Linked DNA regions of Homo sapiens: region 1 is linked to region 2. Evidence: fine-mapped expression QTL. A gene starts in region 2. The other region holds a variant in brackets. All regions are shown on one strand. Distances are from middle to middle.

What was found. PIP is the estimated chance that this variant, and not a neighbour inherited with it, causes the effect.
Region 1: its variant is the best candidate, but not a certain one, in a credible set for the expression of PADI6 in whole blood (INTERVAL, PIP 0.70).

The regions. Positions count from the first base shown.
Region 1 is chr1:17,392,391-17,396,773 of GRCh38, forward strand. It overlaps PADI6 (peptidyl arginine deiminase 6), which reads left to right. Exons shown (of 16, transcript NM_207421.4): 10 at 1,585-1,692; 11 at 1,910-2,064; 12 at 2,561-2,717; 13 at 3,150-3,273. Among named protein-coding and RNA genes, the nearest start is that of PADI6, 22 kb to the left of the region's middle. RefSeq lists an enhancer at 1,331-2,530. The variant C/T (reference allele first, on the strand shown) is at 2,502.
Region 2 is chr1:17,369,495-17,373,877 of GRCh38, forward strand. PADI6 (peptidyl arginine deiminase 6) reads left to right here and starts at 2,702. Exons shown (of 16, transcript NM_207421.4): 1 at 2,702-2,867; 2 at 3,562-3,739. The coding sequence starts at 2,752.

The DNA.
Region 1 (4,383 bases), 23 kb after region 2:
TGAGTCATGGCCACTAAGGAATAGTTAGAGTCCAGCCTCCTTCCCATTCCAGAATGGACACGTGTTCAAGACCACAGAACCCTAACCCCCAGGCCCCGGAAGGCTCTGATACCTTTGGCTAAGGCTGTGAGAGCTGGGCCACTGCCCTGGGGTCCCGCCTGACTCTGGCACAGCACCAAGTCTAGAGCCCCGGTCAGCCTTCGGTTCTAGAGCTCTGTCCTCTGCAGATGAGTGATCATCACATGCTAGGCACGCCATCCTGAGCACCAGAGATAAACTGGAACATATGCTGTCCCATGTTAGCAAGGATAGAACTTTTAAGTGCTATGAAATTTAGACAATGAGATGATACAGTGATTCATTAGACCAAATGAGGCAGTTTAAGAATAGTTGGGAAAATCTGCAAATGAAACTTAAGGAAACAAGGAGCTGGCCATGCAGAGATTTGGGGCAGGGGTGGCCAGGATTAAAAGGAGTTCCTGGCCGGGTGCAGTGGCTCAAGCCTGTAATCCCAACACATTGGGAGGCTGATCACTTGAGGTCAGGAGTTTTAAAACAGCCTGGAAAACATGGCAAAATACTGTCTCTACTAAAAAAATACAAAAATCAGCCGGGCATGGTGGCGCGCGCCTGTAGTCCCACCTACTCTGGTCACTGAGGCAGAAGAATCGCTTGAACCCAGGAGGCGGAGGTTGCAGTGCACCTAGATCACGCCACTACACTCCAGCCTGGATGACAGAGCGAGACTGTCTCAAAAGAAAAAAAAAAATCTGGGGTTGTGCTTGGAGGTCTTGAAGAAGGCTGATGCAGACAGATCACAGTGAACAAAGGTGAAAGGCAGGGCTACCTCCTGGTTAAGGTACCTTTTAAGCTAAGGACAAACAAGAGACACTCAAAGCATGAATCGGGAATGAAAGGTTATAGTTCAGGTTTTCAAAAGACCCCTCTGGCTAAGATGTAGGGAACAGATCTTAAGAGTAGGCAAGAATAGAAGCGAAACTGGAAGGCATCACAGTGGCATAGGGTGGAGACACGGTGGCTTCCTGAGTGGCACCAGCGCAGAGCTGACTCAGAATGTAAGCCAGTAAGGCTTGTTAATGGATTCTTTACGAAAGAAGAAAGGAAGAATCTGGATGCTCAAGTCTTTTTCGCCCAGACTGGAGTGCAGTGGCGCGATCTCAGCTCCACTGCAGCCTCTGCCTCCTCCTGAGTAGCTGGGATTACAGGCATGAGCCACCATGCCTGGCTAACTTTTTGGTTTTGTTTTAAGTAGACTGTCTCACCATGTTTCCCAGGCTGGTCTTGAATTCCTAGGCTCAAGTGATCCACCCACCTTGGCCACCCAAAGTGCTGGGATTGCAGGCGTGAGCCACCACACCTGGCCATGGATGCTCAAGTCTTAAACCTGAAGAGTAGGGGAGAGAGGGATCGGAGAGCCTTCAAGAAGGGGTGATATCTGAGCTGGGTGTTGAGGGTTGAGCAGGAGTTGGCAGGAAGGAAGGGGGTTCTTACCGTACCTTTTCCGTAAATGGGGTCCGGGGAGATGTGTGACTGGCAAACAATCTGTCTTCCTCTCCATTCCAGGATGAGATGGCCTTCTGCTACACCCAGGCTCCCCACAAGACAACGTCCTTGATCCTCGACACACCTCAGGCCGCCGATCTCGATGAGTTCCCCATGAAGTACTCACTGGTGTGGAACTTGGTTTGGCTAATCTGAGCTCAGTCCAATCTCTCAGGCCTGGGGCCTGCCTAGAAATAATGGGGCACCAAGTGGGGAGAGGGCCCAGGTGGCCTCTGAGGGGGGAGGGGACGTGGAAGTCTACCTGAGAGCCTGGATTTAGGGATAAGACTGGGGCCTAAAGCCATCCCCTACTAACACCCCTTCCCTGGCTCGGTCTCTCCCCCAGAGCCCTGGTATTGGCTACATGATCCAGGACACTGAGGACCATAAAGTGGCCAGCATGGATTCCATTGGGAACCTGATGGTGTCCCCACCTGTCAAGGTCCAAGGGAAAGAGTACCCGCTGGGCAGAGTCCTCATTGGCAGCAGCTTTTACCCCAGGTGAGCCACAAAGCCAGACGCCTCCAAATGAAAGGAAGGGACCATGGTCGTTCCCCTGGCCCCGCCTGCTTCCCATAGCACCTCAGCAGGTCACACACACTGGACCATTTCTTAAACTGAAGACATTTGAGCTTTTGATTCACGTGGGAGACTAAAGATGAGAATAAACCATTTATTCTTTGATTCCAGGGTTTAAACTGAAACAAGTGAAATTTGGTCCACCAGGATGTCATTTCCAAGAGATATGTGGTTGGATTTCTTGGTGGCCATAAATCCAAAATGATACTTGTGCCCGGGCTTGTCTGTCTAGAAACACTAGGCTCTGTTCTGAGTGGGGTCAGAGTAAGGGATTCGTAACCAACACATCCGCTATGGACCGGCCTCTTTCACACAACGGTCAGAGGCCAGCTCCCTGGAGGCAGCATGACACCAAGTGG[C/T]GGGTGACCAGCCCTGGGCCACACTGGCTCAAGAGCTGTTCTTTCCATCTTCCTTCTAGCGCAGAGGGCCGGGCCATGAGTAAGACCCTCCGAGACTTCCTCTATGCCCAGCAGGTCCAAGCGCCGGTGGAGCTCTACTCAGATTGGCTAATGACTGGCCACGTGGATGAGTTCATGTGCTTCATCCCCACAGATGACAAGAATGAGGGCAAAAAGGTCTGCTTTGGGGTCTGGAGAAGGGACATCTGACCCTTGCCTTCTGTTGGGGAATCTTGGAAGATTCTGGAGAGAAAACTGGCTTTTTCTTGTTTTTTTTTTTTTTTGTTTGTTTTTTGAGAGTCTTGCTCTGTCACCCAGGCTGGAGTGCAGTGGCGTGATCTCCGCTCACTGCAACCACTGCCTCCCGGACTCAAGCAATTCTCCTGCCTCAGCCTCCTGAGTAGCTGGAATTACAGAAACATGCCACCACACCTGGCTCATTTTTGTATTTTTAGTAGAGATGGAATTTCACCATGTTGGCCAGGCTGGTCTCGAACTTCTGACCTCAGAGGATCTGCCTGCCTCGGCCTCCAAAGTGCTGGGATTACAGATATGAGCCACCATGTCCAGCTGAGAAAGCTGGCTTCTGACCCAAGTTCTGTTTCCCAGGGCTTCCTGCTGCTCCTGGCCAGCCCCAGTGCCTGCTATAAACTGTTCCGAGAGAAACAGAAGGAAGGCTATGGCGACGCTCTTCTGTTTGATGAGCTTAGAGCAGATCAGCTCCTGTCTAATGGTAAGGGAACTCCCTTTCCACAGAACAGAACTGGGGTCTTCCTTTTTCCAGGGGTCCTTTCTACATAGCCATTCTGTCACGCTTGGCGTAAAGGATGCCAGGGAAGCACAGAAGCTGTTGGAATTGCCATATTAGAACGTCTTATTTCTGGGCTGCTCTAGTGGTACTACAACACAAGTAGACCAGATGTTCTGGGATGGCCTGGAGGCTGTTTGGATGTATTTGAAGGGGGACTCACTTAGTACATAGGTGGCCCCAAGTGGGGGGAAAACGGGTGTTAACAATGCTAGTGCCTGGATTTATTCAGGGCATGTTGGATTAAGTATCTAGGGACTGGGACTTTGTGGGTCTCCTGGTTACATTAAGGAAACACACAGGTGGACAAGCAGAGGTGGTGTGGCTGGTGCCATTGCACTTCTGATCTAAAGGCTGTGGGAGTGGGCTGGGCATGGTGGCTCACACCTGTAACCCCAGCACTTTGGGAGGCTGAGGCGGGCAGATCACCTGAGGCCAAAAGTTCGAGGCCAGCCTGGCCAACATGACGAAAGCCCATCTCTACTAAAGATACGAAAATTAGCCGGGCATGGTGGTGCATGCCTGTAATCTCAGCTACTCGGGAGGCTGAGGCAGGGGAATCGCTTTAACCTGGGAGGTGGAGGTTGCGGTGAGCTAAGATCGTGCCATTGCACTCCAGCCTGGGCCACAGAGCAAGACTCCATCTCAAAAAATAATAAAGGCTGTAGGAACCCAGAAAGGGGCTGGGGGTATTAGGTTTTTCTAGACCCTCAATACTCAAAGTGTTATCTGAGGGCCAGCGCACCTGGGAGCTTGTTAAAAATGTAGAATTTCCACCCTGCTCCACACCTCCTGGATACTCAGCCTTTGGGGTTGGGGCCCGGGAACTCCTGGTCATAGAAGCACCATGGAAGGTGACATCTGCTGAGCATGAACCACATGACAAAGACTATCACCTCAGAGCTGGCAAATAAATTGGGCATCCCTGTCCCAAAGATCAGGCAATTGAGGAACAAAGGTAATGTAACCTGGAGAGGGTCACAGGCAGAAAGTGCCAGGTTGTATTGGCATAAGGGGAGTAGGGGCTGAAGTCAT
Region 2 (4,383 bases):
GGACAAGGAGGTGATTTAGTCATTTGCTCCACAATAACTTGTTGAGTACCTACTATGTCTGGAGCTGTTTTGCAGGTGCTGGGGATTCAGTGGTGAATAAGAAGCCCCTGGAGGCGAGCAGGACGTGCTCTGGGTCTGAGTCACTTTCATCTCTGTCCACGAGGCTGGGTGAGGAGCCTTCCTCACTGTGCTCTGTAGAGCCCTGGCACAAGGCAGGGCTGCCCCAGGGTGGGGAACGTCAGAGCTTCCAGGCTGCCTTCCTCCAGACCCCAGAGCCTGGACTGGGCCTCAGCGACCCCTCCCCAGTCAACCCGTCTTCTCCCTCCAGCTGCCTCTGGCCGCTTGTGCGTGAGGGTGGGTGAGCCCTTTGGGATGAGTCTCATCAGAGCCTCTGCACGCTGAGTGCTTCCTGCCTGCTTAATTTTGCCACTTTCAATCCAACCAGAGGGGCATTTTGGGTCTTGCTGACCAACCCCCTGCCTCCAAGAGCAACTAAAACAGAGACATCCTTGAGAGTTGTGTTGAGTGCTTAAAACCTCCAGGGAGGGAATTTTTTACTGCAACTTGCAAATTTAGCCAGCCTGGCTGACCGAACAGGCTTCACTCAGTACCTCATCTCCACCTCCTATGCTGGGTACACCTGGGTGCATATTAGAGCAAAGGCTGAAAACAAATGTTTATATTACAGTACAACCCTATGTAAAATACACAGCTGTACAAAGGGGTAAGGCTGCTTTTTACGTACTGATACAAAGAACTTCTCTCCAGTATAACTATGAAGTGAAAGAGGCAAGGTATGGAATACTGGGTGGCACATACTACCGTTTATATAAGAAGACAGTAGTAGGAGGAGAGAAGAAAAGAGCAAAAGCGCCCCGGACATAGTAGGTGTTCAGCAATTCTAGTGGAGCAAATGACTAAATGACCTCCTTGTCCTTCCTCAAAAAAGATAACCCAATGGGCTTCCAGGGGCATCTCCACTGAACTGAAAAGTTTGTAATTGTAACCAAGCAGCTTAACTTTGAGCACATTTTACAACTTTTCTCTTTAGTCTCGAGATGTAACCTCGAAGGAACCTGCAGAAGCCTTTTTCCCTTAACCTTAAAATAGACTCCACGTCCTTCCCTTTCTCACCATAAAGCCCCTTCAAATTTATCTAACTGTATGCTAGTATTGGAGGAGGAAGAGAAGAAGAAAAGGATACACACACATATTTACTTGGTCATGCATAACATTTATTTGGAAAGACATATAAGAAACGGGTAACACTGTCACTACCTCCACCTGCAGGTGGGTAAGGCACAGGGCAGGAGGGAGACTCTGAACTTGGAATCATGTGACTGTGGTACCTATTCAGGAGTAAGCATGACCCAGCCTGGGCAACATAACAAGACCCCATCTCTGCGGAAAAATGTAAAACCATTAGCTGGGCATGGTGGTGCACATCTGTAGTCCCAGCTGCTCAGGAGGCTGAGGTGGGAAGACCACTTGAGCCTGGGAGGTCAAGGCTGTGAACCATGATCACGCCACTTCACTCCAGCCTGGGTAACGGAGTGAGACCCTGTCTCAAAAACAACAACAAAAAAAAACTCAACCCAAGCTTAAGACATGAAATGAACACAATTTTAAAGTCAGTTATGTAAGTTCCTTGTGCCAGAGAAGGGTTCCTATTTCTTTGCTCTGTGGGCTCCGCTGAGATGAGTAGCAGCTGATGACCCTGGCTTGATGTATTCATTCCACTAACACTTGCTGTGCCCCCACCCCCACCGACACAGCTGTAAGCAAAGAGCTCACCTTAATCACTGGGGGTTGGGATGCAGGTTCCTGGACCACACCCTAGACCTTCTGGGCCCAGGAATTTGCAATGTTAACAAGCACCCTTGATAATTTTTGAAACCACCAGAGGGTTAATAACCACCTAGTCTAGGCAGGCGCTGTGGCTCACGCCTGTAATCCCAGCACTTTGGCAGGTCGAGATAGGAGGATTTCTGGGATCAAGAAGTTCGAGACTAGCCTGGGCAACATGGCAAAACCCGGTCTCTACAAAAAATACAAAAATCAGCTGGACATGGTGGTGCACACCTGTAGTCCCAGCTACTTGGGAGGCTGAGATGGATCACTGGAGCCAGGTAGGTTGAGGCTGCAGTGAGCTATGATTGCGCCACTGCACTCTAGCATGGGTAGAGACCCTGTCTCAAAAACAAAACCAAACCACCAGTCCAGCACTTTGCCGAGCTCCTTCGTCAATTTCCAGGAGACACACACCCTAGAACTGAGACCCCAGAGCCTGGGCATGCTGCCACACATTGCCATCCTGACTGCTACCATCAACTCCTCCCAACTGCCCTCTGCAGGTATTTGCCCCGACAGCTTCCAGCTGAGTCCTCCAGCAACATGGCCAAGTTGATCACTCCAAGGCACCGACTTCCCAGAGCCCCTCCTCTTCCCAGCTGAAGGCCACAGATGCCTAAGCAACCGGCCTCAGACTCCCCTGGCCTGCAGCTCTGCAGGCACGAGGTGCCTGATAAATTGGTGATGAAGGGGTTCTGATGCCACCTGCTCCCCAGACTATCAGCCACCAGGAAGCTCTTAGAGGGAAAATCAGTGACACCTGGGCAGCTGCTGACCCCTCCCCTTCTTAACAAGGGGGTGGCCTGCACAGGCCTGGACTGTATAACAGGGAAGGGCAGGGTGAGCCCTGGGGCGTCTGAGGCTGCTGTGCTGAGTGAGGGCTGCGGTGCAGGCCTGAGGATGGTCAGCGTGGAGGGCCGAGCCATGTCCTTCCAGAGTATCATCCACCTGTCCCTGGACAGCCCTGTCCATGCCGTTTGTGTGTTGGGCACAGAAATCTGCTTGGATCTCAGCGGGTGAGATGCTGGGAGCTCTGCCAGAGGTGGCAGGCAGACAGGCAGGCAGGCCTGGGACCCAGTCCCCTTGATCTGGGAGTTGGGGGTTACTTCTCTAGCCTCACTATCCTGCCCCATCTTGGGAAGCCTTGGGTCTCTAGTGGGGGGCCTCCCAGTTCCAACCACGCAGAATTCTGACTTAAATCCTGCCTCTGCCCTGTAGCAGCTGCCATGGACTCTTAGTGAGGCAAGGGCCTTGGCCTCTCTGTTCCCCTATCTGTGAAACCATGGGGACGCTGGCCTCGGGGGGCTGTGAGGAGCAGGCCAGGGAGACTGCTAGATGCTGGAGCCTGCAGGTGGAGGTGACTCAGCAGGGTCACAGTACAACTTCCTGAGTCGCTTGCCCTGATCTTTTTCTTTATGGGGATCCTTTGTGGCTCCCCCCTTCTTGGGAATTGGGTGCTTATTACTAAGATGTAGCTGTGGTAACTTCTGCAGTGTCGGTAGCGGGATGGGGTTTGGGCTGGAGCCCGTCGGAGAGCAAACACAGGGGTCCTTTGGGAGGGGGTGGGTAGGAATAAGGACCCCAGACCACTCTGCCTCAACACCCTAAGGAGAATGAGGATTCGGGAGCCGTCCCCTCCCCCATGCCAGTCATCTCCTAGGCTGAGAAGGTGTTTGTGCCCTGACGCGTGTCTCTTACCGGGCAAACCAGGTGTGCCCCCCAGAAGTGCCAGTGCTTCACCATCCATGGCTCTGGGAGGGTCTTGATCGATGTGGCCAACACGGTGATTTCTGAGAAGGAGGACGCCACCATCTGGTGGCCCCTGTCTGATCCCACGTACGCCACAGTGAAGATGACATCGCCCAGCCCTTCCGTGGATGCGGATAAGGTAAGCCTCAGGGGAAGAGGTGAGGGGCATCTCCCGGGGTGGGACCTAGCACAGCCACTGGGGCTTCCTCCTGGCTGCAGACGTGACTCGAGCCTGGGAAACACGTTGTTTTGCACGTCTGATCTCATCCAGTGTCTGCAACAGACCAGTGGTGTGGGCACTCCATGACCCCATTTTACAAAGAAACAGAGGCACCTAGCGAAGGTGCCCTGCCAAGTCAGCAACCAGCAGGACTGGGATTTATTTTTTATTTTCATTTATTTATTATTATTTTTTTTTTTGAGTCTCACGCTCATTGCCCAGACTGGGGTGCAATGGCACAATCTCAGCTCACTGCAACCTCCACTTCCCGGGTTCAAGCAATTCTCCTGCCTCAGCTTCCCGAGTAGCTGGGACTACAGGCACCCACCACCATGCCCGGCTAATTTTGTATTTTTAGTATGAGACAGGGTTTCACTATGTTGGCCAGGCTGGTCTCAAACTCCTGACTTCAAGTGATCTACCTGCCTCCACCTCCCAAAGTGCTGGGATTACAGGCATGAGCCACCACACCTGGCCTACCATCACTTTACATATGAGGAAACTAAGGCACAGAGTGCTGTGTCTAAACCTAAGTAGCCTACCTAGAGTGGGATAGACCCAGG